Linked DNA regions of Homo sapiens: region 2 is linked to region 1. Evidence: fine-mapped expression QTL. Tissue or cell type: whole blood. Region 1 holds a variant in brackets; the other region holds the start of a gene. All regions are shown on one strand. Distances are between the middles of the regions.

Region 1 (15,744 bases):
TAGTGACTTAGAGTGGACTGAGGCTCCATTATTAGTAATGTGGAGAGATTTCATTAAATGTTTATACCTTACATGAGAAATAAAAATTCACAGTGTAGAGAACACTTCTGCTGTAAGGCACGTGGGAAAGCTTTTACTAATTCCACGAGGCTCATTTTACATATCTAAAATTAGACTGCAAGTGAGCCAAGACCCCTACACTCCATCCTGGGTGACAAAGCAAGACTCTGTCTCAAAAAAAATAAAATAAAATTAGACTGCAAATGTCCTGGGAATGTAGGGGAATGTATGGCAACCTTTAAATATCTCACATGCCATAATGTTAACATGAAATCTCACATTGGAGGAAGAACCTGTGTATCCCAGGGATATGGTGTCACCTTATTTCATTGCTCAAGCCTTAATATCTTTGTGAGAATTCACACTGGGGTAAAACCCTGTGATTATAAAAAGGATGCAGGAAGTACTTCATTTGCTTCTCATATCTTACTGTATCACAGTTCATAGCCATGTGAATGTAAGAAATATGGGAAAGCTGTCAGAATCTCTTCACAACCCAGCAGGAAGTAACTTGCAATGAGACCACACAGTCTGTGAAACATGGAAAGCCCTTTGCTGTTATCTCAGGGATTGCTTAAGTAAGGTTTTGCAGTAGAGAGAAATCCTATTAGTGTAAGAGGTTTTGGAGAGTGGTAGTTCAGCTAAATAATGTTGACTTCTCAGATTGGAAAACTCTGACCAATTGAAAATGTTTTATTACTCTTTTAAAATATCCGTGTTCACCTGGTGCAGTGGCTCAGAGCTGTAATCTCAGCACTTTGAGAGGCTGAGGTGAGTGGATTGCTTGAGCTCAGGAGTTCAAGACCAGCCTGGGTAACCTGGTGAAACCCCGCCTCTACAAAAAAGACAAAACTTAGCTGGGCATGGTGGCTTATGCCTATAGTCCCTGCTACCCAGGAGGCTGAGGCAGGAGAATCATTTTAGCCCAGAAGGAGGTTGCAGTGAGCTGAGATTGTGCCACTGCACTCTAGCCTGGGTGACAGAGTCAGACGCTGTCTCAAAACAAAAAATCCATGTTTCAGAGCAGTTTTAGGTTCACAGCAAAATAGTGTGGAAGGTTCAAAGACATCCTATATTCCTGCGGCCACTACATATGCATAGCTTCCACCATCATCAACATACTCCACCAGAGTAATACATTTGTTAGAATTCATGAACCTGCATTGCCACTTCATTATCACCCAAAGTCCACAGATCATCGGTCCTCCCACTATTCCTCCCTCCCTCTCCCCAGCCCGACAACCACTCATCTTTTTACTGTCTCCATAGTTTCGCCTTTTTCAGAATGTCATAGAGTTGGAATTGTGCAGTACGTAACTTTTCAGATTGGCCCAAAGTGATAACTTCACATCCTTCTTTTCCAGTTCAAATGTTGCCTTTTTCAAAACCACTCATGGCCTGCCCCGCCCTCATCCTGTGCCCATAAAAACCGCAGGCTCCACTAACAGAGTAGAAGAGGGTGGGGGCTTTAGTTCTGTCTCTAGAGCAAAGCCCACAGTTATTGGTTAATGAATGCGTTAAGGCACCCACACCTTCCACCAATGTTGAGCTGTGTTCACCCCATGGTGACTTTTGGGGCAGTGGATTGCAGGGTGGGTCTGGAGTGCCATGTGACTGCTCTGCAGGACTTGGAGACTGGTGAAATTTCTGCACAGGTGGCTTCTGGAGCTCCTGGACAAGGCGCACCTTTCCTCAAGAGCGTGACTCCTTGATGCTTGGAATCTGGGTGAGGACAGGATGAGGACATTTAAAAATACTGTTTAGTGTTAGGTTTTTAACTCATTGTTTAATTCTCTGACACAGCAGCTGAGCTTTTTTTTTTTTTTTTTTTTTTTTTTTTCTTGAGATGGAATTTTGCTCTTGTTGCCCAGGCTGGAGTGCAGTGGAGAGATCTTGGCTCACTGCAACCTCTGCCTCCCGTGTTCAAGTGATTCTCCTGCCTCAGACGCCTCAGTAGCTGGGATTACAGGCACGTGCCACCACGCCCAGCTAATTTTTGTATTTTTAGTAGAGATGGGGTTTTGCCATGTTGGCCAGACTGGTCTTGAACTCCTGACCTCAGATGATCTGCCCCTCTTGGCCTCCCAAAGTGCTGGGATTACAAGCATGAGCCACTGCACCCGGCACTGAGCAATTTTTTAAACCAATATATTCTTTGGTGCAGCATCTAATTTAATACTTATTTTAAAACCTAATCCTTTAAAAATCTTTTATTTGCCAGTTGATAGAGAATGTCTGTTTTAAACACACGTTTCTAATGTATAAATCTAATGTTAGCAATACAATTCCAAACCCTTTACTTATCAGTGGGTATTTTATTTAGCAGAGACTGTATAAAATGCACTGCTAGCCAAACTGCTTTTGAATTTCTTTTGCCCCAGATCTCTGGTTTTTGGAGGCTTCATTAAATAAAACTAATAATCCTCTATTCACTTTTTAAGAATTGTGGTAAAGTATATTACATAAAGTTTACATTTTAACCATTTTAAGTGTCCACTTCGCTGGCATTAAGTATACTCACATTGTTGGGCAACTGTCACCATCATCCCACTAAAAAATGTTTATCTTCCCAAACTGAACCCAGTAAACACTAACTCCCTACTGCTCCCTTCCCAATCTCTGGCAAACACCATTCAATTCTCTGTTGGAAACAAGTGCTCGACATAGCCAAAAGAAACCCCCTAGAAAATTTCTCCGCAGGGCACCTTTACTTCTGCAGAAGGGTGCTGCTTGTGCCCGTTACGATCGCAAGAGCACGATGAACAAAGAAGGGAAGGAGTTTTTAATTTAATGCAGTTCCTGTTTCTGTGTCGTCCCCCAATTGGCTGGGATTGGACTGCACAATCTAAGCTGATCCCGATTGGCTAAGACTTAAACTTTTCCAAATAGGGTAAATGTGCGATTTGTGGAAACAGAAGAGAAGAAAGGGGGTAGGATTGATGTACAACTTTTATAACTTATGATCAGAAAGTTGAGTCTTTGAAGAGGAACTTAGTTGTTCCAACATGTGTCTGTGTTAACCCCACTACTGTAGGTACCTCATAAAAGTGAAGTCCCAGTATTTGACTTTTTGTGACTAGTTTATTTCATTTAGCGTAACATGTTCAAGGTTCATGTTCATGTTCATGATCAAGGAACATGTTCAAGGAACATGTTCATGTTCATGTTCAAATTCTGCACATCTCAGAATTTCCTTTTTTAAGGCTGGATAATCTATTGTATGGCTATACCACAGTTTGATTTGCTTTCACCTTTTCAATATTGTGAATAAAGCTGCCATGAACATGGGTGTACAAATAGCTCTTCCAGTACCTGCTTTCAACTTTTTGATTAATATACCCAGAAGTGGAATTGCTGGATCATACGTTGGTATCATTTTTTAGTATTAATGTTTATTTTCCAACTCGGTCTTGAGGTTTCTCTCTTGAGAAAGGCCAAAAGCCAATATAGCCACACTCTTTTTTTTAATTTTTTTATTTTAAGAGTCTTGCTCTGTCATCCAGGCTGGAGTGCAGTGGCACAATCTCAGCTCACTGCAACCTCTGCCTCCTGGGTTCAAGTGATTCTCATGCCTCAGCCTCCCGAGCAGCTGGGATTACAGGCATCTCCCACCATGCCCAGCTAATTTTTATATTTTTTGTAGAGACGGGGTTTCACCATGTTGGCCACACTGGTCTTGAACTCCTGACCTCAGGTGATCCACTCACCTTGGCCTCCCAGAGTGCTGGGATTACAGGCCTGAGCCAACATGTCCGGCCCGAGATAGCCACTCTCTAGGAGAGCTGGTGGAGGATGTTAAGTTCAAGTGTGTCAAGTGAGACACAATGAGAAAGTGAAACCAAAATCAATGAAAGGAAAAAGTTTATTATAGATTCCAGAGAAGTTAGGGGTGCTGAATAATGGCCCACAGGAAGTCCAGAGACAGTATGGTGCTCAACCTGTGGGTAGGTTACTGGAGAGATGAAGAGACAGAGAGGGCCTGTGGGACTGTGCCTTTTAAGGACCATGGGTTTGTCCTTCAGTCTTTCTTCACGTGACTGTCGATTGGCTAGGGAAAAAAATGAAGGGGGGAATTTATTTACATGACTGTGGTGTTGGTCATTAGCTTTTATAGGAGTCAGCAGCTGTGAGATGAGGAACACGTGGGTT[A/G]TATCAGGAAACAACCGCACAGGGAGAGGAAGTTTGTCAGACCTAAAAGCGTAGCAGCTTTATATTAAACAAATTATGACCTATGGCAATTCTACATTTATTCCCTATCACTTTTTTATGTTTTTAGGAGACAGGGGTCTGCCCAGGCTGGTCTCTAACTCCTGGGCTCAAGCAATCCTCCCATCTGGGTCTCCCAAAGTGCTGGGATTGCAGACGTGAATAAAACACCCGCCCCAAATCACTTTTAAATCCTACCACGTCTTGGCAGGTGTTTTATTCACACGGATATTTAGAAAATGCCAAAAAGGGTTTGTGTGTGTGTATGTGTGTGATATAAAGGTTCTGGTTTGGTTGTCAAAAATATAGGAAGAACTACAGTACACAGGGCTTTAAATTCCAAAGTTTTTCTTTGCTTGTAGACTGATATTTATCATAGTCCCTGGAGGAGGGTGTAAGGCCTCCAGCGACCCAGGATCCAGTTTCAGAGACTTCTTCATTAGGTTAGTGAATGTGGCCAAGTTACACCGCCCGTCCATGCCTCTGTTTTCCATCCATAAAGAGGGCAACATAAAAACGCTCTTGAAGGAGAAGAAGGGGAACCCCTCCCACGGCTCCAGGAGACCCCTGTGCAGATTTCACCTGGGGTCTGCATGGCCTGAAGGGTGGCTCTCCCACAGGCAATCCCGCCTCCAGGGCATCGCCCCGCCCCATTGTCTCCGTCTTGGTATCGCCCCGCCCCTTCTGCCTTTCCCGGGGGACGCTGGGATCTCTCTACTAGCTTTGGAAAGTCGCGGCTGTAGCGCCCTTCTAACGTCACCACGCGGCTCTCGTGGCTCCTGTTTCTCAGCCCATTCCAGGTCACCTCCCCCCCCTCCCCCGTTGCCCTCATGCCTGGAAACGGAAGTGCGCTCCCGGAAACGGAAGTGAATGCCGTACTCCGCGTGCAGGCCCGCCTCCTTCCACATCAACCAGTCTAAGGTTGCTCCCACCAGACTAGGAGGACTGGAGAGTAGGGTTGGGGTCAAAGGGTAGCCTCCTGCAGGTCGCCTCCTCCTGTGGCTTTCCCGGACGTCGCGCTGGGACTTCCTGCCGACACCGCACTTCTTCCCAGACTCCCACCTGCGCCGCTGGGGGCTTGGGTCCAGGTAAAAGGCGGGTCGGGAGTGCGGGCAGCGAGCTTCGGTGGGGCCTTTTCGTCCGCGGTCTCCCCTTTCCCAAGCCTCTTCATCAGCCTTTGCAGACTTTCTGCAGAAGGAAGAAAATCTCTTGCTGGAGTCGTGGTTGTTTTGTCCCCAGCAGCTTCACCGACCAGGGGATTCCAGCCAGTTTGGGTGAACACTGGGTGAATTTGTTCTTTTGGGGGATGTTCTTTATATTTGGTAAATTATGTACAGGTGGAGAAATTAGAAACTCATTGTTAGGGAGTACGGGCATCTGACACAATTAAATGCATGGGTGAATGAATGCATGTAAATGCAAATTTTACTGTCACGGAAAATCAGCTCGGTATTCAGCTCAGAACCCTGTAAATCTCTAAGCTTCAAAATACAAGCATCTCCAGAGAAAAAAAGAGAACATGCAGGCTTGTTTTTGTATCACAAATGGGAATTGAGTTGACCATAAACAGCAAGAGCCTTTTCCAAGTGGATTTTCCTTACCTTGTTAATTTGGAAATTTTCAAACTGAAGAAAATGTCAAAGTCTGGTACAACAAACCACCATTGCCCTAGATTCACTAAGTAATTAATCTCTTGTCATTTCCTTTTTTTGAGACAGTCTCACTCTATTGCCCAGGCTGGAGTGCAACAGCACGATCTCCGCTCATTGCAACCTCCACCTCCCAGGTTCAAGTGATTCTCTTGCCACAGCCTCCCAAGTAGCTGGGATGACAGGCGCAGACCACCACACCCAGCTAATTTTTGTATTTTTAGTAGAGACGGGGTTTCACCATGTTGGCCAGGCTTAACTCCTGACCTCGTGATCTGCCCTCCTGGGCCTCCCAAAGTGCTGGGATTACAAGCACGAGCCACCGCGCCTTGCACATACGAAGGTTTATAAGCTAAAAGTAAGTTGACGGTGAGGTAGGAGGCGGGACTAGACTCTGGAGTCTAGTGGGCTTGGACACCCCACCAAATTGAAGACTAGCTAAAACAGGTCTGTGCCACATGAATATTTTTTTTTGGTGTCTCCACTATTGAGTAGGTTCTCAGGTGGTCAGGGCCTCTGAGGTCTCCCTTTGGGCAATGCTGCTTACCCCCTTCCTTTCCTCCCTTCCACAGTTACCATTTGTTTAGCTCCTCTCTGCCCAGCCCTCTGGAATTTAGGTTCAACATCCAACTGTCCATTTTTAGCTCCTAATCCACTTTTATAACACCCTGCTATTTATATTTACACCTTTCTGGAAGGTGGGAATTTAAAAGGGAAAATTAACTAGACATTTGCTAAACTTAGGCTGAAACCCCCTGTAGCGATCCTTAGTCGACCTGGGGACAACAGCAAGCATCCCAGAGGACTTGGCACTGGAGTGTCTTTTACGCTATTGGAGCAAGTTCAAATTCGTCTTAAGAAGAGACTCATTTTTTGTTGCAGCACTGTTTGGGTTCAATACAGATTAGAAAACTAACAGATTTGGCCTACATATGGTTCTATACATTATAATGATATTTACAATTAGACTTATTTTGTAAAAAGGAAAATGGGAAGACGTCCCTTATGTACAGGCTTTTATGGCTCTTTACAGGCTCATGTTAATTCCAGGGACCAGAATGCCATGCCTAAGGGATCCCCTCCTAGCTGCTCCCTTTAGAAGGCTTACGTTTTCCCCAGGGTCTCTTCAGTCCCCCAATTCTGAGGGGCTTCCTACCAGTTTTTCAATGAAGGAACCCACCCCAAGGTCATCACTCACGCCTCCCCCTTATGCAAACTAGCCCCTATCCCTCCCACTTCCCAAGAGAGTAAGCCCAACCAGTATCACCAGGAGTGGGGCCCCATATCGGCCCCTAAAGTGAAACCTGTGTGCATTGTGGGTGGTAGCTAGTGGAAGTAAGGGAACATGTGCCATTTTCTGTGTCTAATTTGGCTTTATGCAAGGAAAAAATTGGACAGTTTTTAGAGAATCAAGAAAAGTTTATAGAGAAGTTTGTTAAGTTAACCATGTTGTTTCATTTAACTTGTTATGACTCACAAATATTGTCATCCGCTTGTTGTGTTGTGGGGAAAAGAAGTGGAGAAAAAAGGTGTGGTATATACCTATATAAATCCTATTAATCCTATTTCTCTGGAAAACCCTCACTAATACAGGATTGGTTTTTGTTGTTGTTGTTGTTTGTTTGGTTTTTTTTTTTTAAAGAGATGGGGTTTTGCCATGTTGCTCAGGCTGGTCTCGAACTCCTGGACTCAAGTGACCCACCCACCTTGGCTTCTCAAAGTGCTGGGAGTACAGACATGAACCACCATGCTCGACCTTGTTGAAACTTTTTGCATCTGTATTTGTGAGCCATGGTGTTGGCCTGTAGTTCTCTGTTGTTTTAATGTCTTTCGTTTTGGTATTAGGGTGATGCTGGCCTCACAGAATGTTAGAAAGTATTCCCTCTGCTTTTTCTGGAAGAGATTGTAGAAAACTGGCATACTTTCTTACTTTCTTCCTTAAATGTTTGGTAGAATTCACTAGTGAACACATCTGGACTTGGTGCTTTTTGTTTTGGAATGTTATTATTCTTTTTCTTTATAGATACAGATCTATTTAGATTGTCTGTTTCTTCTTGTGTGAGTTTTGGCAGTGATATGGTTTGGCTGTGTCCCCACCCAAATCTCATCTTGAATTCCCACATGTTGTGGGAGGCACCCGGTGGGAGGTAATTGAATCATGGGGCAAGTCTTCCCCATCCTGTTATTGTGATAGTCAATAAGTCTCACTAGTTTTGACTGTCTTAAAAACGGGAATTTTTCTGCACAAGCTCTCTCTTTGCCTGCCAACATCCACGTAAGATGTGACTTGCTCCTCCCTGGCTTCCACCATGATTGTGAGGCCGCCCCAGCCACGTGGAACTGTGAGTCCAATTAAACCTTTTTCTTTTGTGAATTGCCCACTTTCGGGTATGTCTTTATAAGCAGCATGAAAACAGACTAATACAGGCATATTGTTTCTTTCACATCACTGATGTATTTCATCTAGGCTTTCAAATTTGTGGATGTAGAATTGTTCATGAAATTGCTTTATTATCCATTTCGTATTTGTTATTTTTATTTTTTATTATACTTTAAGTTTTAGGGTAGATGTGCACAACGTGCATGTTAGTTACATATGTATACATGTGCCATGTTGGTATGCTGCACCCATTAACTCGTCATTTAACATTAGGTATATCTCCTAATGCTATTCCTCCCCCTCACCCCACCCCACAACAGGCCCCGGTGTGTGATGTTCCCCTTCCTGTGTCCATGTGTTATCACTGTTCAATTCCCACCTATGAGTGAGAACATGTGGTGTTTGGTTTTTTGTCCTTGGGATAGTTTGCTGAGAATGATGGTTTCCAGCTTCATCCATGTCCCAACAAAGGACATGAACTCATCATTTTTTATGGCTGCATAGTATTCCATGGTATATATGTGCCATATTTTCTTAATCCAGTCTATCATTGATGGACGTTTGGGTTGGTTCCAAGTCTTTGCTATTGTGAATAGTGCTGCAATAAACGTACATGTGCATGTGTCTTTATAGCAGCATGATTTATAATCCTCTGGGTATATACCCAGTAATGGGATTGCTGGGTCAAATGGTATTTCTTGTTCTAGATCCCTGAGGAATCACCACACTGACTTCCACAATGGTTGAACTAGTTTACAGTTCCACCAACAGTGTAAAAGCGTTCCTATTTCTCCACATCCTCTCCAGCACCTGTTGTTTCCTGACTTTTTAATGATTGCCATTCTAACTGGTGTGAGATGGTATCTCACTGTGGTTTTGATTTGCATTTCTCTGATGGCCAATGATGATGAGCATTTTTTCATGTGTCTTTTGGCTGCATAAATGTCTTCTTTTGAGAAGTGTCTATTCATGTCCTTCGCTCACTTTTTGATGGGGTGGTTTTTTTCTTGTAAATTTGTTTGAGTTCATTGTAGATTCTGGATATTAGCCCTTTGTCAGATGAGTAGGTTGCAAACATTTTCTCCCATTCTGTAGGTTGCCTGTTCACTCTGATGGTAGTTTCTTTGGCTGTGCAGAAGCTCTTTAGTTTAATTAGATCCCATTTGTCAATTTTGGCTTTTGTTGCCATTGCTTTTGGTGTTTTAGACATGAAGTCCTTGCCCATGCCTATGTCCTGAATGGTAATGCCTAGGTTTTCTTCTAGGGTTTTTATGGTTTTAGGTCTAAGATTTAAGTCTTTAAGAGATCCAGTTTCAGCTTTCTACATATGGCTAGCCAGTTTTCCCAGCACCATTTATTAAATAGGGAATCCTTTCCCCATTGCTTGTTTTTGTCAGGTTTGTCAAAGATCAAATGGTTGTAGATATGTGGCATAATTTCTGAGGGCTCTGTTCTGTTCCATTGGTCTATATCTGTGTTTTGGTACCAGTACCATGCTGTTTTGGTTACTGTAGCCTTGTAGTATAGTTTGAAGTCAGGTAGCATGATGCCTCCAGCTTTGTTCTTTTGGCTTAGGATTGACTTGGCAATGTGGGCTCTTTTTTGGTTCCATATGAACTTTAAAGTAGTTTTTTCCAATTCTGTGAAGAAAGTCATTGGTAGCTTGATGGGGATGGCATTGAGTCTATAAATTACCTTGGGCAGTATGGCCATTTTCCCGATATTGATTCTTCCTACCCATGAGCATGGAATGTTCTTCCATTTGGTTGTATCCTCTTTTATTTCATTGAGCAGTGGTTTGTAGTTCTCCTTGAAGAGGTCCTTCATGTCCCTTGTAAGTTGGATTCTTAGGTATTTTATTGTCTTTGAAGCAATTGTTAATGGGAGTTCACTCATGATTTGGCTCTCTGTTTGTCTGTTATTGGTGTATAAGAATGCTTGTGATTTTTGCACATGATTTTGTATCCTGAGACTTTGCTGAAGTTGCCTATCAGCTTAAGGAGATTTTGGGCTGAGACGATGGGGTTTTCTAGATAAACAATCATGTCATCTGCAAACAGGGACAATTTGACTTCCTCTTTTACTAACTGAATACCCTTTATTTCCTTCTCCTGCCTGATTGCCCTGGCCAGAACTTCCAACACTATATTGAATAGGAGTGGTGAGAGAGGGCATCCCTGTTTTGTGCCAGTTTTCAAAGGGAATGCTTCCAGTTTTTGCCCATTCAGTATGATATTGGCTGTGGGTTTGTCATAGATAGCTCTTATTATTTTGAGATACTCTCATCAATACCTAATTTATTGAGAGTTTTTAGCATGAAGGGTTGTTGAATTTTGTCAAAGGCCTTTTCTGCATCTATTGAGATAATCATATGGTTTTTGTCGTTGGTTCTGTTTATATGCTGGATTACGTTTATTGATTTGCGTATGTTGAACCAGCCTTGCATCCCAGGGATGAAGCCCACTTGATCATGGTGGATAAGCTTTTTGATGTGCTGCTGGATTCGGTTTGCCAGTATTTTATTGAGGATTTTTGCATTGATGTTCATCAGGGATATTGGTCCAAAATTCTCTTTTTTTTATTGTGTCTCTGCCAGGCTTTGGTATCAGGATGATGCTGGCCTTATAAAATGAGTTAGGGAGGATTCCCTCTTTTTCTATTGATTGGAATAGTTTCAGAAGGAATGGTACCAGCTCCTCCTTGTACCTCTGGTAGAATTCGGCTGTGAATCCATCTGGTCCTGGACTTTTTTGGTTGGTAAGCTATTAGTTATTGCCTCAATTTCAGAGCGTGTTATTGGTCTATTCAGGGATTCAACTTCTTCCTGGTTTAGTCTTGGGAGGGTGTATGTGTCAAGGAATTTATCCATTTCTTCTAGGTTTTCTAGTTTATTTGCGTAGAGGTGTTTATTCTCTGATGGTTGTTTGTATTTCTGTGGTATCAGTGGTGATATCCCCTTTATCATTTTTTATTGCATCTATTTGATTCTTCTCTCTTTTCTTCTTTATTAGTCTTGCTAGTGGTCTATCAATTTTGTTGATCTTTTCAAAAAACCAGCTCCTGTATTCATTGATTTTTTGAAGGGTTTTTTGTGTCTCTATTTCCTTCAGTTCTGCTCTGATCTTAGTTATTTCTTGCCTTCTGCTAGCTTTTGAATGTGTTTGCTCTTGCTTTTCTATTTGTTTTAATTGTGATGTTAGGGTGTCAATTTTAGATCTTTCCTGCTTTCTCTTGTGGTCATTTAGTGCTATAAATTTCCCTCTATACACTGCTTTGAATGTGTCCCAGATTCTGGTATGTTGTGTCTTTGTTCTCATTGGTTTCAAAAAACATTTTTATTTCTGCCTTCATTTCGTTATGTACCCAGTAGTCATTCAGGAGCAGGTTGTTCAGTTTCCATGTAGTTGAGCGGTTTTGAGTGAGTTTCTTAATCGTGAGTTCTAGTTTGATTGCACTGTGGTCTGAGAGACAGTTTGTTATAATTTCTGTTCTTTTACATTTGCTGAGGAGTGCCTTACTTCCAACTATGTGGTCAATTTTGGAATAAGTGTGGTGTGGTGCTGAGAAGAATGTATATTCTGTTGATTTGGGGTGAAGAGTTCTGTAGATGTCTATTAGGTCCACTTGGTACAGAGCTGAGTTCAACTCCTGGATATCCTTGTTAACTTTCTGTCTTGTTGATCTGTCTAATGTTGACAGTGGGGTGTTAAAGTCTCCCATTATTATTGTGTGGGAGTCTAAGTCTCTTTCTAGGTGTCCAAGGACTTGCTTTATGAATCTGGGTGCTCCTGTATTGGGTGCATATATATTTAGGATAGTTAGCTCTTCTTGTTGAATTGATCCCTTTACCATTATGTAATGGCCTTCTTTGTCTCTTTTGATCTTTGTTGGTTTAAAGTCTGTTTTATCAGAGACTAGGATTGCAACCCCTGCCTTTTTTTGTTTTCCATTTGCTTGGCAGATCTTCCTCCATCCCTTTATTTTGAGTCTATGTGTGACTCTGCACGTGAGATGGGTTTCCTGAATACAGCACACTGATGGGTCTTGACTCTTTATCCAATTTGCCAGTCTGTGTCTTTTAATTGGAGCATTTAGCCCATTTACATTTAAGGTTAATATTGTTATGTGTGAATTTGATCCTGTCATTATGTTAGTTGGTTATTTTGCTCATTAGTTGATGCAGTTTCTTCCTAGTCTTGATGGTCTTTACAATTTGGCATGTTTTTGCAGTGGCTGGTACCGGTTGTTCCTTTCCATGTTTAGTCCTTCCTTCAGGAGCTCTTGTAGGGCAGGCCAGGTGGTGACAAAATCTCTCAGCATTTGCTTGTCTGTATTTTATTTCTCCTTCACTTATGAAGCTTAGTTTGGCTGGATATGAAATTCTGGTTGAAAATTCTTTTCTTTAAGAGTGTTGAATATTGGCCCCCACTGTCTTCTGGCTTGTAGAGTTTCTGCTGAGAGATCAGCTGTTAGTCTGATGGGCTTCCCTTTGTGGGTAGCCCGACCTTTCTCTCTGGGTGCCCTTAACATTTTTTCCTTCATTTCAACTTTGGTGAATCTGACAATTATGTGTCTTGGAGTTGCTCTTCTTGAGGAGTATCTTTGTGGCTTTCTCTGTATTTCCTGAATTTGAATGTTGGCCTGCCTTGCTAGATTGGGGAAGTTCTCCTGGATAATATCCTGCAGAGTGTTTTCCAACTTGGTTCCATTCTCCCTGTCACTTTCAGGTACACCAATCAGATGTAGATTTGGTCTTTTCATATAGTCCTATATTTCTTGGAGGCTTTGTTTCTTTTCATTCTTTTTTCTCTAAACTTCTCTTCTTGTTTCATTTCATTCATTTGATCTTCCATCACTGATACCCTTTCTTCCAGTTGATCGAATCGGCTACTGAGGCTTGTGCATTTGTCATGTAGTTGTTGTGCCTTGGTTTTCAGCTCCATCAGGTCCTTTAAGGACTTCTCTGCATTGGCTATTCTAGTTAGCCATTCTAATTTTTTTTCACGGTTTTTAACTTCTTTGCCATGGGTTCAAACTTCCTCCTTTAGCTTGGAGTAGTTTGATCATCTGAAGCCTTCTTCTGTCAACTCGTCAAAGTCATTTTCCGTCCAGCTTTGTTCCATTGCTGATGCGGAGCTGCGTTCCTTTGGAGGAGCAGAGGCGCTCTGATTTTTAGAGTTTCCAGTTTTTCTGCTCTGTTTTTTCCCCATCTTTGTGGTTTTATCTACCTTTGGTCTTTGATGATGGTGATGTACTGATAGGGTTTTGGTGTGGATGTCCTGTTTGTTAGTTTTCCTTCTAACAGTCAGGACCCTCAGCTGCAGGTCTGTTGGAGTTTGCTGGAGGTCCACTCCAAACCTGTTTGCCTGGGTATCAGCAGCAAAGGCTGCAGAACAGTGGATATTGGTGAACAGCAAATGTTCCTCTGGAAGTTTTGTCTCAGAGGAGTACCCAGCCATGTGAGGTGTCAGTCTCCCCCTACTGGGGGATGCCTCCCAGTTAGGCTACTCAGGGGTCAGGGACCCACTTGAGGAGGCAGTCTGTTCATTCTCAGATCTCCAGCTGCATGCTGAGAGAACCACTGCTCTCTTCAAAGCTGCAGACAGGGACATTTAAGTCTGCAGAGGATTCTGCTGCCTTTTGTTTGGCTGTGCCCTGCCCGCAGAGGTGGAGTCTACAGAGGCAGGCATGCATCCTTGAGCTGCGGTGGGCTCCACCCAGTTCAAGCTTTCCAGCCACTTTGTTTACCTGCTCAAGCCTCAGCAATGGCGGGCGCCCCTCCCCCAGCCTCACTGCCACTTTGCCGTTTGATCTCAGACTGTTGTGCTAGCAATGAGCAAGGCTCTATGGGCGTAGGACCCTCCGAGCCAGGCGTGGGATGTAATCTCCTGGTGTGCCGTTTGCTAAGACCATTTGAAAAGTGCAGTATTAGGGTGGGAGTGACCCGATTTTCCAGGTGCTGTCTCTCACCCCTTTCTTTGACTAGGAAAGGGAATTCCCTGACCCCTTGCGCTTCCCAGGTGAGGTGATGCCTCGCCCTGCTTCAGCTCACGCTCGGTGCGCTGCACCCACTTTCTGACACTCCCCAGTGAGATGAACCCGGTACCTAAGTTGGAAATGCAGAAATCACCCGTCTTCTGCATCACTCATGCTGGGAGCTGTAGACTGGAGCTGTTCCTATTTGGACATCTTGGCTCCGCCCCCCATTTCATATTTATGAGATCTGTAGTGATGTCCCTTCTTAATTTCTGCTATTAGTAATTTGTGTCTTCTCTGTTGTTTCTTTGTTAGCCTGATGAGAGGTTTATTTTATTCATCCTTTCAAAGAACCAGCTTTTGGTATTGTTGATTTTACTCTATTTTCTGTTTTCAATTTCACTGACTTTTGCTTGAGGTTTTTTGTTTGAGACAGTGTCTTGCTTTGTTGTCCAGGCAGGAGTGCAGTGGCATGATCATGGCTCACTGCAGCCTCAAACTCCTGGACTCAAGGGATGCTTCCACCTCAGTCACCCAAATAGAGGGGAGTACAGGCATGTGCCACCATGCCTGGCTTTTAAAATTTTTGTAGAAATGGAGTCTAGCTGTGTTGCCCAGGCTGGTCTCAAAACTCCTGGCCCTCAAGTGATCCTCCCACACTGGCCTCCAAAAGTGCTGAGATTACAGGCATAAGCCACCATGTCTGGCCTTGAATTTTTATTATTTCTTTTCTTCTGCTTACTTTGGATTTAATTTGCTTTTTTTTTTTTTTTTTAGTTTCCTAAGGTGGAAGCTTAGATGATTGGCACAGATCTTTTTTCTTTTCTAACCATTCAGTGTTATAAATTTCCCCCGAAGAACTGCTTTTGTTGCACCCCACAAATCTTGTTAAGTTGTATCTGTTGTCAGTGCAAATTTTTTAAACTTTTTTTGAGATTTCTTGTTTGACCTATTTATTTAGAAGTGTGCTGTTTGATCTTCAAGTATTTTGAGATTTTTTTAGCTGTCTTTGATTAGTTTCCAGTTTAATTCTGTTGTGATCTGAGAGCATACATTGTATGATTTCAGTTCTTTCATATTTGTTAAGAGGTGTTTCATGACCCGCAGTGTGGCCTGTCTTGATGAATATTCTATGTGAGCTTGAGAAGAATGTATAATCTGCTGGTTTTGGATGAAGTAATCTATATATGTTAATTATATCCAGTTGATTGATAATGCTGTTGAGTTTTACTACATTCTTACTGATTTTCTCCCTGCTGGATCTGTCCATTTGTGATAGAGGGGTATTTATTTTTAATTAATTTATTTTTTCATTTTTTTTTTTTTTTTTGAGATGGAGTCTTGCACTGTCACCTGGGCTGGAGTGCCATGGCGTGATCTCAGTTCACTGCACCCTTTGCCTCCTGGGTTCAAGCGATTCTCCTGCCTCGGCCTCCCAAGTAGCTGGGACTATAGGTGTGCACCACCACACTT
Region 2 (16,246 bases), 31 kb before region 1:
TTTGTATTTTTAGTAGAGACGGGGTTTCACCGTGTTAGCCAGGATGGTCTCGATCTCCTGACCTCGTGATCCACCTGCCTTGGCCTCCCAAAGTGATGGGATTACAGGCGTGAGCCACACATGTGGCTGAGACTTTTCTCTTAATGAAGAGAAAACAAGAGAAAAGGATAGGGGTTGAAATACTGAAACATTAATTTTAGGTAAGGGGAGTTGGTCCTCCAAATATATACTAATTTCAGCCAGGTGGGCATGAAAATAAATATCTCAGGCCAGGTATGGTGGCTTATGTCTATAATCCCAGCACATTGGGAGGCTGAGGCAAGCGGATCACTTTGAGTTCAGGAGTTAGAGACCAGCCTGGGCAACATGGTGAAACCCTGTCTCCACTAAAAATACAAAAATTAGCCCTGCATGGTGATGCACGCCTGTAATTCCAGTTACTTGGGAGGCTGAGGCACAGTAATCACTTGAACCCAGGAGGCGGAGGTTGCATTGAGCTGAAATTGTGCCACTCCAGCTTTGGTGATGGAGTAGACTCTGTCTCAAAAAAAAAAAAAAAAAAAGAAAAGAAAAGAAATATCTCAGAGCATTTCACAGAGGTCAACACATTTGAAAAGGTGAGGAAACTTTTAAAGCTGTACTGGTTATAGAGCAAAGTGAAGTACAGAATAGAGTCAGACTGCTAGAGTACACGTCTTGGCTCTGCCTCTTGCTGGCTACGTAATTTTGTAGAAGTTAAATGGCCTCTCTTGCCTCAGTCTGATCTTCCTTTTTTTTTTTTTTGAGACAGAGTCTGGCTCTTTTGCCCAGGCTGGGGTGCAGTGGCTGATCTTGGCTCACTGCAAGCTCCGCCTCCCGGGTTCGCGCCATTCTCCTGCCTCAGCCTCCTGAGTAGCTGGGACTACGGCGCCCGCCACCGTGCCCGGCTAATTTTTTGTATTTTTAGTAGAGACGGGGTTTCACCGTGTTAGCCAGGATGGTCTCGATCTCCTGACCTCGTGATCTGTCTGCCTCGGCCTCCCAAAGTGCTGGGATTACAGGCGTGAGCCACCACGCCTGGCCATCTCAGTCTGATCTTCTGTAAACTGTGGATGAATTTTATAATAAGCTGCCTGATTTGGTACTGTAAGAATCAAATAAGTGAATGCATCTACTCAAATATGATAAGACAAGATTTAGTGGTACTTAGTAAGATTAAATTAGTCCTAGGTAATGATATTTTAAAGAAAACTCATCTGTATGCAAATCTTCTAAATAAAATTTCTAGCAAAACTAATCCAGTTATGAGAAAAAATAGTGCCCTATGAACAGTTTTACTTTAGGATTGCAAGAATGGCTTATTATCAGGAATGTTTTCAACACAACTAATTACTATACTACATTTGAGAGAGAGGAAAGTATTGTGAGGGAAGATGAAAAATTCCATATCCATTTGGAATTTAAAAAGTAAGTGAGCAAGGAAAGGAAAATGAATCCAGAATGGAATGGAGAAGTTTATCTACTGATGTGATTTTTTATGTAGGAAATCCTAAGGAATCCACTAAACTATTAAAACTGATAAACAAGTTCAACAAGGTTACAGGTAACAAGATCAACATAGAAAACTCAGTTGTATTTATGTATACTATCACGGCACAAGCCAAAAATGAAATTAAGAAAACAATTCTGGCTGGGCGTGGTGGCTCATGCCTGTAATCCCAGCACTTTGGGAGGCCTGAGGTCAGGAGCTCGAGACCAGCCTGGCCAACATGGTGAAACCCCGTCTCTACTAAAAATACAAAAAAAAAAATTAGCTGGGTGTGGTGGCGCGTGCCGGTAGTCCCAGCTACTCAGGAGGCTGAGGCAGAAGAATCGCTTGAACCCAGGAGGTGGAGGTTGCAGTGAGCTGAGATGGCACCACTGCACTCCAGCCTGGGCAATAAGAGCGAAACTTCATCTCCAAAAAAAAAAAAAAAAAAGAAAAGAAAAGAAAAGAAAAGAAAACAATTCCATTTATTATAGTATTAAAATAATAAACTACTTGGGAATAAATCTGATAAAAGATGTGCGAGACTTCCATACTGAATACCACAAAATGTTGATAAAGATGAAAAGTAATGGAAAGTCACCCCATGTTGATGGATTAGAATACTTATTATTTTTGAGAGGGAGTCTTACTCTGTTGCCCAAGCTGGAATGCACTGGTGCAATCTCGGCTTACTGTAACCTCTGCCTCTGGGTTCAAGCAGTTCTCCTGCCTCAGTCTCCCGAGTAGCTGGGATTACAGGCATGTGCCACCATGCCCAACTAATTTTTGTATTTTTAGTAGATATGGGGTTTCACCATGTTGGCTAGGCTGGTCTCGAACTCCTGACCTCAAGTGATCTGCCCATCTCGGCTTCTCAAAGTGCTGGGATTGTAGTCATGAACCACCACACCTGACCAAGAATACTGAACATTATTTTTAAGATGGCAGTACTCTCCAAGTTGGTCTATAGATTAAACATAATCCCTATCAAAATTCCAGATGGTGACAGAGTCTTTGCTTTACTCAACTATAGTCAAGCTCCTTAAACTTTTCTTAGGCCCATGTGTACACTTTTGTATATTGAGTTTTAGCAAGAACCCTGCTAAGTCAGTACAATAAGAACCTACCACCCTCAGTATCAGATCACCCTTATAGCTGATCAGGTTCCCGATTCTCTACTATCTACCAATTACAGGCCAAAGTGATCAGACATCATGTTAGGTCAGTTTATCCACCATCCTCCATACCCCTGATATTCCTCTTGGCAATTTTCCACTCACTGACCTTTACTCTTTAACTTGACTATAAATTCCCATTTGCTCATGCTATAATTATTCAGAGTTAGCCTACTCTGTCACCTCCACTGCAAAATCCTACTGCAGTGGTCCCTATACCTAACGTGATGGTACTGAATAAAGTCTGCCTTACTATGCTTTAACAAGTTCCACTGATGTTATTTTTTTTTTTAATTTAGCACTGGCTTCATAGCAGAAATTGACAGGCTCATCATAAACTTTATATAGAAATGGAAAGAACACCAAATAGCCAAACAGTCTTGAAAAAGAGGAACACAGTTGAAGGAGTCACACTTTTGGATTTCATAAAGTGCTACAAAATTGTAGTAATCAAAACAATGTGGCACTGGCTTAAGGATAAACATACAAATTAATGGAATAGAATTGAGAGTCCAGAAGTAAGCCCTCACATATATGGTCAACAGATCTACAAGGCTGCCAGGGTAATTCAATGAAGAATGAAAAGAATGTTTTCAACAAATGGTTCTGGGAGAAATTGATACCATACTGCAAAAGAATGCATTTGGGCTTTTACTTTATACCACATACAAAAGTTAACAGATACCACATTGGGGATTAAGCTAAAAAAATTAAAATATTTAAAAACCCCACAAAAGTTAGCTGACAATGGATCAAAGACCTAAACATACATGTAAGACCTACAATAATTCCCAGAAGTATAGGCAGAAAAGTTTCATGATACTGGATTTAGTACTGTTTTCTTAGGTGCAGTATCAAAAACATTGCAAACAAAAAATTATCAACATTAAACTTGTACTTCAGAGGACACTCATCAATATTATATAGTTTAGTATTCTAAAATATTCCATCAAGAAAGAGAAGGAAAACCTATTGAGAGAAAATATTTGTAAATCATATATATGATAAGGACCTCTCTTCAGAATATATAAAGAACTCTTGCAACTCAATGGAATTTTTTTTTTTAAGATAGAGAGTTTCGCTCTTGTTGCCCAGGCTGGATTGCAATGGCACCATCTCAGCTCACCGCAAGCTCCGCCTCCTGGGTTCAAGCGATTCTCCTGCCTTGGCCTCCTGAATAGTTGAAATTACAGGCATGTGCCACCATGCCTGGCTACTTTTTTGTATTTTTAGTAGAGACAGGGTTTCTCCATGTTGGTCAGGGTGGTCTTGAACTCCCAACCTGAGGTGATCTGCCTGCCTTGGCCTCCCAAAGTGCTGGGATTACAGGCGTGAGCCACTGCACCCGGACCTTTTTTTTTTTTTTTTTCGAAACAGAGTCTCACTTTATCACCCAGGCTGGAGTGCGGTGGCATAATCTTGGCTGACTGCAACCTCTTCCTCCCGGGTTCAAGCGATTCTCCTGCCTCAGCCTCCCGAGTAGCTGGGATTACAGGTGTGTGCTATCACGCCTGGCTGATTTTTTATCTTTTACGATGTTGGCCAGGCTGGTCTTGAACTCCTGGCCTCAAGTGATCTGTCTGTCTCAGCCTCCCAAATTGCTGGGATTACAAGCCACCGTGCCCAGCCAGAAAACAAATTTTAAAAGGGGCAAAGGAATTGAACAGAAATTTCTCCAAAGAAGCATACAAATGGCTAACAAAGCACATTAAATGATGCTGAACATCACTAGTGTTAGGGAAATACAAGTCAAAATCATGAGGTATCACCTCACACCACTAACACAGTTAACATGAAAAACACTAAAGTGTTAGCAGGGACGTAGAGAAGTTGGAGCCCTCATACATTTCTGGTGGGAATGTAAAACAGTACAGCCCCTTTCAAAAACAGTGTGGCAGTTCTTCAAATTCTTAGATAGTTACTGTATGGCTCAGCAATTCCATTCCCAGATATATACTCTAGAGAAATAAAAACCAGCTGAGCGTGGTGGCTTATGCCTTTGTGGAGGCCGAGGCGGGCAGGTTGCTTGAGCTTAGGAGTTTGAGACCAGCCTGGGCAAAACCCTGTCTCTACAAAAAAATACAAAAATTAGCTGGGTGTGGTGGCTTATGCCTGTGGTCCTAGTTGCTCAGGAGGCTGAGGTGGGAGGATCGCTTGAGCCTAGGAGGTAGAGGCTGCAGTGAGCTGTGATTTCTCAAAAAATAAAAGCCAGTATGCACAAAAAGATATATGTGAATTTTCATAGCAGCATTAATCACAACACCCCCAAAGTGGAAACAAACCATATGTCCATCAACTGAAGACAAATCATATATGGTATATACATAGAATGGAATATCATTCAGCAATAAAATAGAATGATCTAGGCTATAATACAGATGAACCTTGAAAAACGGGCTAAGTGAAAAAAGTTATTCACAAAAGATTGTATGATTTTTAGGCCGGGCATGGTGGCTCACGCCTATAATCCCAGCACTTTTGGAGGCCGAGGCAGGACTACTTAAGCCCAGGAGTTCGAGATCAGCCTTGCAACATAGTGAGACCCTGTCTATACAAAAATAAAAATAAATTGTATGAGTATATCCATATGAAATGTCTACAAAAGAAAAATCTGTAGTGATAAAGTAGGTTTGTGGTTCCCTGGAGCTTAAAGAGGAGGTAAATGGGTTTTCCCATTCAAAGATTTCTTTTAGTGTGATTAAAATGTTCCAAAATTATGTTTGAACAACACTGCGAATGTACTAAAAAATATTGAATTATATAGCTTTAAGTGGGTGAACTGTGTTGGTTATATGTGAATTGTATCTCAATACAGCTGGTCTAAAAACCAAAAGGGAAAAATCACAATAATAGCCACATCATTGGGAGCGTAAAAATTTAATGTCTATTAAGCATTTAGGGTAGTAAGATTTAAAAAACAGCTACCGCCAGGTGCGGTGGCTCACACCAGCACTTTCAGAGGCTGAGGTGGGCAGATCACCTGAGGTTAGGAGTTTGAGACCACCCTGGCCAACATGGCGAAACCCCATCTCTACTAAAAAAAAAAAAAAAAAAAAATACAAAAATTAGCTGAGCGTGGTGGCGCGTGCCTATAATCCCAGCTACTCAGGAGACTGAGAAAGGAGAATCCCTAGAACTCAGGAGGTGGAGGTTGCAGTGAGCCGAGATCGTACCACTGTATTCCAGCCTGGGTGACAGAGCAAGACTGTCTCAAAAACAAACAAACAAAAAAGCTACCATTATTATTATTATTACCACGGAATATTATTAGTTGATACAAAACCACTGGAATGAAAAGATTATGATCTTGATATTGGCATAAGTAAATGTATTACTGGCATAGAGTCTAGAATCAGATACAGGTATACATAGGAATTTATAGTTTAATAAACATGGAATTTGAAATCAGTAAATCAAGGACAGTTTATCAATATGTGGTACTACAATAATTGGCCGTGTTTCTGGAGGAAAGAGATATTGTATCCACTATCCCACACCACATACTGAAACACATTCCATGAGTATGAAAGATTTCAATGTTTTTAAAGTAATATGCTGCAGAAGAAAATTAGGAAATCTATATGTAATCTAGAGTTTATGAAGACTTCTTAATGCAAGAGAGGAAACTTAAAAAAGAAAATCTTTTTGAGTTGAAAAATTAACTGCAAAATAGTTACCAGTTCAGTAGATTCACAAAATATTTGATAATGTACATGAACAGTTCTTCATGTTAGTAAAACAGTGTTCAAAATAACTTTATTAACTCCATAAAGGCCACCCACTACAAAGCACAGCAAAAACGATTTCTGGAGAAACTAGAATCACTCCTGCAGAAGTGAATGCCTGATATCAGTGCTATTTTACAACGCGGTATTTTACAACGAGGCCCTGGAACTCACTGTAAGATCTCAGAAAACAATATATTAGTCAAAGAAAAAAAAATCAACATTTACAAAAAGTATCAGCATATTGAATACACAAAGGAATCAACTATTAGAATTTAGCATGGCGTCCAGATAAATGAAATAAGGGGAAATATTGGCCTCAAGTTGAATTGGGCCCGGCGCCGTGGTGCACGCCTGTAATCCCAGCCTTTTGGGAGGCTGAGGCGGGATGATTGTTGGAGCCCAGGAGTTTGAGATCAGCCTGGGTAACATACCTCAACTCTGGGGGAAAAAAAATTAGCCGGGCATGGTGGCCTGCGCCTGTAGACCCAGCTACTCGGGAGGCTGAGGCGGGATGATGGCGTGAGCCCATGAGTTTCGCCCCACAGCACGCCAGCCTGGACTACACAGTGAGACCCTGTCTCAAACAAAAACAAAATAAAAAACTAAAACTAGATTGAATGAATGGAGGAGATAGGCCATATCATGGACTGGCAGGATTATCAAAGGAAGCATCATTTTGAGGGTGCTAGGAACGTGGGAGGAGGTGAGAATAAAAGCTTTTTGTGAGCATTGTGCACATCCTGTGGGGGAGCCCCCACCTCTAACTTTGCCAACACCACCGACCCCACCCTAGGTTAGCCCCGTCCGCAGGGCTGGTTCTAACCTCAGCCTTGTGCTCTGGGCCCCTTTTGGCCTCCATCCCTCAAGGTGAGCAGACTCCAAGGCCTCCAAGGCGTCTCCGTAGCCACTGGGGAGTAAACCAGAATCTCTCTGCCTGAGGTTGTTCAGCTCGGCTGAGGTTGCAGTTCCCGAGCGCTCCTCCAGGTTTGAGGCTGGAGGCGGAAGTGACGTCACGGAGCGCTGCTGTGTTTTCCGGCGCTTTCTCCGCGCCGCCAAACCCGTTTTCTTCCTGGTGGCGTTTGGGCTTAATACAGCTTTGGCGAGGTCGGATGACGGGTGGGAGCCAGCGGTGGAAGGGGTGGCGAAAGTACCGGTTTGCCCCAGGCCGCCGAGGGGCCTCCTTAGAGAGACCTTGCCTGCTCCGCTCGCGTCCGCCGGGGCCGCGCGGGTCCTCCTGGCGCCGCCAGGTTCAAAAAGCCACTCGAGTTGTCACTGCGACGGCCCTGGGCCAGGAGCCGTTTCGGGATCTGTCGTAAGGGCGCTTCCTCACGATTTTTGCAAACACGGTGATTGCCGCTTCAAACTCTTCCAAAGCAATTCTTTGTGACTTTTTTTTTTCCAGAAACAACGAGTTTTCGTCGTTCGAATCAGGTTGACTGGTCCTTCATCCCCCCAATCTCCCGTACCTGGCGAGTCCAGCTCGTCGCGGTGAGTACTGGGGTGAAAGTTGGTTTCGGGGGCTTCTTCCTCCTGTTTTATCTGAGAATTTGTTTTTCTCTTTGCGCATCCTGTATTTACTTTTGACACTCTACATTCAGGTAGAAACATAAAGCTATTTTTTAGGTATCTGGGGTGTGGTTATTTCTCTATGTGAATATAAACGTTTGTAGACCAGAAGTCTTTCTACTGAAGAAAAGCAAGAATACTCAGCTATTCTTTTTATCTGAACTTCCTAGGCCTGTACCTCCCCACAGAGCTTCAAAACGGGCTTTTAGGAAGAAGGAATGGAGGCTTTGAAGTAAGTTGAACATTGCAGGCGTGACACTTAAGGTTTAAATGCTTGGTAATACGTGTCCTGTGGATAAAGACATGTCCTTTTAAAACCATAATACTATTACCCCAGAAAATTTAAAATGTTGTTAATATGTACCCTGTGTAAAAAGGTACAGTTCTCCACTTTGTTCCAATATATGGTTTTGATTGTTTTGGGATCTATTACGTATCCAAGTTTCATGTCTTTTAGTCTCTTTAAAACTAGCAGACACTGTTTATCCGTTATATTGTCTTTTTGCGCAGTCACTCGTTCTTTCAGAAAGTTATACATTTTGGTAGTTCTGATTGTATTCTGTGCCGTGTTTAAATGTATCCTTCATTTATTGGTGTATCCTGTAAATGGATGAGTGTCTGAATGGTTAATTAAGGCATAGTAAAAAAATTCAGCCTAGGGCTGTTCTTAGGGAGGTTGTAAACTAGTGGAGGAGGCTGTCATGTAACCAAGCAAATAAGTGTATTACAAATTGATGAAGGTCTGTAAGTAAAGTAGAGGACAGAATTATTTTCTCTATTTTTCTTTGGAATAGGCAATGCTAAGAAAAGAGTGATATGCAAGCTGAGACCAAAAATATGGTATGATTTAGCCATACTGAAGGGGAAGGAAATAAGAGCTGGGCAAAGCATTCTGTGAATTGGCTGACTCCACTTCTATGGTGAGAGAGAGGAGTGCATCAAAGATTACTCCCAGGTTTGACAGAGTCAGTATTCTTTCTTTGGTTGGGGAAACAATGTGGTGGGATAATTTAATCTTAAATGTATGACAGGAAATAGTAAGTGATATCTTTTGGGAGACAGAGTTTCGCTGTTGCCAGGCTCCAGTGCAGTGGCAGGATCTCGGCTCACTGAAACACTGTAACCTCCACCTCTTGGGTTTTCAAGCCATCCTCCTGCCTCAGCCACCCTAGTAGCTGGGATTACAAGTGTGCGCCACCATGCCTGGCTAATTTTTGTATTTTTGTATTTTTTTTTTTTTTAGTAGAGATGGTTTCAGCATGTTGGCCAGTCTGGTCTCAGACTCCTGACCTCAAGTGATCCACCCACCTCGGCCTCCCAAAATGCTGGGATTACAGGTATAAGCCACTGTGCCTGGCCAAAGTAAGTGATATCTGACAAATGATGTAAATCAAGGGAAAATAGGAGAAGCATGAATGTGTTTTAATTACATGAATAAGAAATTAATTCAAGGGATTAATGAGAATCAGTGCTTGATCACTGAAAAATAAGCTCTCCATGAAAATTCACTGATGTTAATTATTAGTCTTAGGAAATATGTATATTCATAAACAGACAAAACTTCTCTCGTTGTTTTTTTCAATTCACTTTTGGGTTCCTTCTCCTACCTAAATTAGTCCTTCGTTTCCCTGAAGGAATGTCCAGAGTAAGCACTCTGCGTGACTCCTTATAGACACTCATACACCTAGGGGGTTGGCTTGATACAATCCATGTAAGTAAATGACCAGAAAACTCACCTGCCAATGTGGGCTGCCAAAAAGCTGTGAAGGGGCCACATGGCCTGGAAATACAACAGATCTTAGAATAATGTCTGTTAATTATAACATCGATGACGGAAAAAAAATCAAATTCCAGTAGGGCCACTCTGTAGATTCTGCACGTTCTTCCCATGTCTGCATGGGTTTTCTCTGGGTACTCTGGTTTCTTCCCACATGCCAAAGATGCACATGTTAGCTTAATTGGTGTGTCTAAATTGTCCCACTATGTGTGTGTGTGCCCTGAGCTGTTAGGATGGGCTCTGGCCATTTTCATTCTGGAACTGGAATAGGTGGATTGGAGAATGAATGAATGAATACAAACTATTGTAAAATAAAAATTCCTAAAACATTTGATAATGATACAACTGTACAACAGTAAATGGTACCACTTAGCAAGCTGGCCCCATTTGTTATTGTTTTTGAGCTTCTTGGTGGTAGGAGGTGGTCCTTAGAGTTTTTGCTTTGGAAGCATTTATTTGTTTTAACCCACCACTGTTAACTGCCATCACATACCAATTCATCAAAAATTGGATAAATAGCCTATTTTTATTAGTCTTTCTTAAATGTATATATATTTCACATTTATTTCAATATTTAATATTAGAAGTGTTTGGGGTCTTTATTTAGAAGTTTAGTGATGTTTTTGTGACCAGAAATATGCTGTAGGAGCTTAACTCGCTTATATTAATTAGCATGTGAAAAAATTCGCTTTGTTGTATGTCATTTCGCTTAAAGTCTCAGTTTCCAAGAACCTGCTGATGACTTTAAGTGAAGACTTAAATTCTATACATTTTCTCTGTTTGGCACTTAGGGGTTCCAGTGAACTAGCCGCATGTAGTGAAATCATTGATGGGGATTCTGATATAAAGTTGCTGAGGATGTGCATATACTGCTTTTTGGAGAGTGTATTGGCAAACCAATTTCAAAAACTGTTGGCAGTACATACTAGGTTTATACACATACATGCCCTACAGCAACAGTAATGTATACACTATGTGTATCAAGATAAAAGTAAGCCAGGTGCAGTGGCTCACGCCTGTAATCCCAACACTTTGGGAGGCCAAGGTGGGTGGATCACTTCAGGTCAGGAGTTGAAGGCCAGCCTGGCCAACATGGTGAAACCCTGACTCTATTAAAAAAAATACAAAAATTAGCCGGGCATGGTGGTGGGTGCCTGTAATCCCAGCCACTTGAGAGACTGAGGCAGGAGAATCACTTGAACCAGGGAGGTGAAGGCTGCAGTGAGCTGAGATTGCGCTACTGCACTCCATCCTGGGCAACCAGAGTGAGACCCTGTCTAAAAACAAAACAAAACAAAACCCAACTGACTTGAGACCTCAATTACATCTGCATTCTCTTCATTTTTGCTTATTCTTCTGTTAGAAACTGGTCAAAGGTCGTGCGTGCGCTCAACAGGAGGGTGTTATCCAGGGGTATGAATGCCAGCAGGTGGGGATCTCTGGGGTCATATTACAGTATTTGGCCACAGTGTGGCTGTAGCCCACTGGATGGTGAAGTTTGCTGGGTTACTCAGGCGGGAGTTAGTCATAGTCCTTAGGGAAGATTGAAGCAGTGTTTCAAGGCAAAGGCCAGCTGCAATGGGTGGATCAGCCTGTAGGGGGAGTCAGGACACCACTGTAGCTATGAGGCTTGGACTGGTTCGTGTCTGCCCTGGAAGTGCTGTGACAAACACACCTCTGGGGCACACTCACACTGATGGTGATGGGCAGCTATGCACAGGAAATTTGGATGCCACTTTGTTTGCAAGGCCTGGGACTTCAGTGTTCACGTTCGGAGGCCTTTGGGAACAAACCTTTGGGGTACAGGTCATGCAGCAGCATGCATCCTGGCATGCGCATTGTCTGTGTCATGAGGGACACAAGCCATCAAGCCAGTCGGCACATGTGCAGAGGGTGCCTCTGCTAGTGGGAGTCCTTTGAGCATGTGGCGTCCATATTAGGAGGGCCACAGGGTGGTGGTGACTGGGCCAGGGTTTTGTGGTATCCTAAGGACTGTGTTATGGGCATATGGCGTGGACAGAGCACCCTCCAATGCCCTCACACCCACACTGCTGACCACCGTGTCGCAATTGTATCCAGCAGGCAACGCTCCCTTTTGCAGTGTCCATCCCATGTCCCCTTTTAGTATGTTCCTCTAATTAGGTCCTGAGGCTTCTGTCTCTGGAGAGTGGCTGTAAATTCTAGCTCTGTCCCGACCAAGAGGAGAGGTGTTCTGGTGTGTTGGGTGGGTTAGGTACAGAAAAGGCAACACAACAAAACACATCAAGTAGCAGAAGCATTTTATTCCTTACAGATCCGCGAGAAGAGGGTTGCCCTTGAGGTCCTGACAGCAACTCAGGAGACAGCCGGGTGCTAACCAGTGGGTGGGGAATGAGACAGAGAGGACCTGTGGGACTGTGCCTTTGTTACGGTCCATGGGCCTTATCCCTCAGGCTTTCCCAGCGTGGTTGTGGATTAGGTAGACCTGAGCAGTGGGGAGAACTGATTTACATGACTGATGTTGGCCAGTAGGTTTCATTATGGTCAGCAGCTGTGGGGTGTGTTGGGTTTGGGGTCAGTGAGGTGAGGAACAAGTAGGCTATGTCACAAACAGCACACAGGGAGGGGAAAGTTTTAAGTAAGCCAAAGGTGATGGGGTCTGACTGGGTTCCAAATAACTTATGTCAGGCCTAAAAATAGATGTAGGGCAGTTATGTTGGAGGGTATGAGCTGATGATTTAGTAAAGCATATGTAAAGGTTAGTGGTATTGTGTGTAACCAAGGGGCAAGAGTGGTGTGGTTGGATAGGCAAGGCTGGAGGTCAAGATAGAAAGTGAGAAGGGTAGTAGTGTTGCGGGACGATCAACGATGGGAGAGACTGAACAGAGTGAGTTCAGGAAAGGTCTTTAAAAGGTGATCACCTGGCTCAGGAGGACTGGCATCCAGGAAAGTCTGAGCCCTGGACAAAGAAAGCAGCCACCTTTAAAGCACTCTGGCCGGGAGCTACTGATACAGGAAGCGTACTTACAGAAGCGAGAACGAAGGCAGTTGATCAGTCTTTTACATTTATCTATACTACATGTTCCACATCCCTGGGAAACCATGTTTCTGTATTAACCTTGTAACTTTGCAGCTGCGCTAGGGAGGTGAAGCAGGAACTCACTGAGCCTCAAGGAGTGTGAAACTAGCAAGTACAGATAAGGCTGGCTGAGCACAGAAGGAAAAACAGGCAGTTAGTATTCTCTCTTAGGCTACTGGGTGGGGGGGTGGGGTAGGAGGAGGGGCTACGCTACACTTAGCTTTTGCAGGAAAAAGTAAAAATTTTTGCTCGTCTTTGATTGTACTTGTAAAATTCATGAATTCCTTCTTCATTAGAAGGCATCATGGAGTAGGTGGTCCCCTCCCTGGGGTTAAGGAGTTTACCGACATGAGGCAGGTGCCTCTTGGGGAAAACAGTAATCTCCATTAATTTTAGTAACTCCTACCAGATTTTCCTTCAGGCTTGGGTATGTGGGTGTGCACATTTGAGCAGAATGCAAGTACGCTACCAGGATCAGGGGCTAAGCAGACAGTTCAGAAAGAAAAAAATGTTCTGTGTCCATTTGTGTTTTAGGAGAGGCAGTCCACGGATGTCACTGTGTGGAGGTTTTAGTGTAATGGTGGAGTCATCTCCACCATCAGAGTCTTGGGTCAGGGCTGTGTTGCTGGAGGCAATGTTGTTTCCAGCGGTGATATTTTGGGCTAGGACAAGGTCGTCTAGGATGTCACTGGGGTATAAAGTGGATACCCATTGAAGTAGATGTGGCCCTCTAGGTTGTAAACCAACAAAGCATCTAGTAAGACGAACCGTTAACAGAATGATATGTAGCTGTACCTGACAACATGTTTTTGTTTCTGTCTTTTGGTGGAAGTTTAGGTTCAGGTGGGTCCCCTATCAGATGAGCAGCTGCCGGGCCTCTGGGACAATCTAATGTTAGTAAGTCCCAGGCGACTGTGCACCCTCGATTTGGCCTTCAGTGTTTGTGGGATGGGGGCAAGATTGAAAATAAGTTAAGCCCTAGAGCATGATAGAGAATTTCAGGAGTTTGTTTTTTGGACTGGAATTTGAAAAGTAGTTATTTGAGGACATTTTTCTGTCTTTCAGTGAAACCAGTTATCTGAGACCTATTAGGGAAATGAAAGTTCTATTGAATATATTTTTCGAGGCGCTAGCATTATGTATTTTAAGAAATGAAACATGGGTTGGGCACAGTGGCTCGCCCCTGTAATCCCAGGAGTTTGGGAGGCCGAAGTGGGAGGATTGCTTGAGCCCAGGAGTTTGAGACCAGCCTGGGCAACATAGCGAGACCCTGCCTCTTAAAAAAAAAATTAAATTGACAAAAAAGAAGTGAAATATATATGTAGGTTACTAATAATGTCTGTAACTCTGAAGGGAATAAGTAGTGTCCTGGCAAGGCCTCGTATTGTGCCTTTAGTGTTTGGAGAGGTATGGGATTTTGCTTTATATTTTGGGTATCTGTCAGACAAGAGATTCCCAGGGTTTTTTTTTTTTTTTTTCCCACCCTGGAAGGGACAGTTTTTAGGTAATGACCCAATAGTTTATTGTAACCATGAAGAAGGTGGGTCGGTTTGTTGACCTGGGCATCCAGCGCTAAGACAGCTGCCTGAAGTTTGGCCAGGCACGTTGTTTCTTGGGTCCTGTCCTTTATTAGGGACATCCTGGCTAAGGGATGGAAGGCAGCAGCATTCCACTGAGCCCCATCACTTATAATGGTCAGCAGTGGCCTTTGCACAGTCTATGAACTCCCATTAGTGTTCACTTAGTTAATCCCAGGGGCTTTCCAGGTAGTCAGGGGACCTGTGGGAGGGAGGAGTGACCACCTTCAGCACGCTGGCATCAGGCAAGGGACTGAGAACAGGGGAAGCCACTGCCTTCTGCGGGTGGATTAGACCCAAGGGCCTGAGATTGGCTTCATCGTGGCCTAAGGAGGCCTCAGTGGCCAGGCAGAGCTTATGGGGGGTTGTTTCCCTGACCTAGAGCACAGTGGGCAGCTGCATAGGAGGATCACAGGCTCAGGTCTGTGAGATCCTCTGTTTCCAGGAGAGCCCAGTAGATGGCCAGTCACTTGTTTTACTGGTGAATAACAGGAAGTCAGGAGGGGCAGTCTCTCCTAGACGGCCTGGGGCAGCTAATGACCATCGTAAGTGGTCTAGAGACTCCAGCAGGCATTTAAAAAGTTGCCAGTCTCTAGCATGAAGGGAGTCCTTTTAGGAAGTTGATTTTTCCCCCCGTTTTCTTTTTTTTTTCTTCGAGGCATTAATAGGAGTGCTTGTTGATTTTAATTTAAATTATAATTTGTAAATCAGGCATATGTTGCCACCAGAACCCAAAAATTACTAAAAGATACTGGAATTACTTCCCCTTAATGACATGTCAAGAGTTTCCTTGGGGAAGGCTGTTATCGGTGCGGTGCATACCTGTGTTCCTGGAGAAGGTGGATGTTGTTAAGATCTCGTTTGCAAAGATCGTATGTGATGACAGATCTGTTGGGTAGCCTGGAAAAGGTGTGTTGTGTCCCATTGGAGGGAGAGGCAAGCTGCAGCTGAGAGGCTGTTGAAATAGGCACTGAACAGGGCATGTTGTCCAGGCCGGGTGTGGTGGCTCACACCTGTAATCCCAGCACTTTGGGAGGCCGAGGTGGGCAGATCACTTGAGGTCAGGAGTTCAAGACCAGCCTGGCTAACATGCTGAAACCCTGTCTCTACTTAAAATATATATATATATATTAGCTGGGCATGGTGACGCACACCTGTAATCCCAGCTACTCGGGAGGCTGAGGCAATAGAATCCCTTGAACCCTGGGTGGCGGAGGTTGCAGTGAACCGAGATTGTGCCACTGCATTCTAGCCTGGGTGACAGAGCAAGACTCAATCTCAGAAAAAAAAACAAACAAACATGTTGGTCAAATTTATAATTAAAAGCACAATAGTTATTGGTTGTTTATTGAATAAAATCAGGAGTTTTAATAATATTGGGTGTGGGCACCTTGATGGATGGGACCACAGTATGAAGGCTGTAGTAATCCAGCATGAGGTGCCCTTTATTTTCTTTTTCAGATTCAAGAGCAGGCACAATTGGGCTGTCAAATAGAGAAGCAGTAGGGATAATCACCCCTTCATTAATTAGGTTTTATAGAAGTTTTCATCCTTGAGGCCCTGTTGTAACTTACATTGGGCCATGTGAAATATTTCAACTAATTATCCATGGGGTCCCATTTTATCAAGCCAATTTGTAAGTGTCAAAGTCTCACTTTAATTTTAATTTGTTATTTATTATGTTAGCATATTTATACCTAATATGGAATATTTTAGGGCCATGGGTACTATGACAATGGGAGATTTAAGCAAGGCTACAGTTAAAGCGAGGCGTACCTATTTTTTTTCTCCTGTATTTAGTTACCCTTTTAAGATTTTAGGGAGCACAATGTTTGAATTTAGTGGGATCCCCAGGTAT

The links.
Region 2: it holds the start of ZNF266, and the variant in region 1 is fine-mapped to the expression of ZNF266 in whole blood (INTERVAL, PIP above 0.99).

Annotation. Positions count from the first base shown.
Region 1 is chr19:9,396,460-9,412,203 of GRCh38, reverse strand. LOC112268250 (a long non-coding RNA gene) reads left to right here and starts at 5,144. Exons shown (of 3, transcript XR_002958434.2): 1 at 5,144-5,354. The variant A/G (reference allele first, on the strand shown) is at 4,210.
Region 2 is chr19:9,426,760-9,443,005 of GRCh38, reverse strand. ZNF266 (zinc finger protein 266) reads left to right here and starts at 7,433. Exons shown (of 11, transcript NM_001370374.1): 1 at 7,433-7,722; 2 at 7,813-7,898; 3 at 8,147-8,208; 4 at 8,771-8,931; 5 at 9,220-9,338. It overlaps LOC105372269 (a long non-coding RNA gene), which reads right to left and starts at 7,365. Exons shown (of 3, transcript XR_007067133.1): 1 at 7,234-7,365. RefSeq lists an enhancer at 7,513-7,642.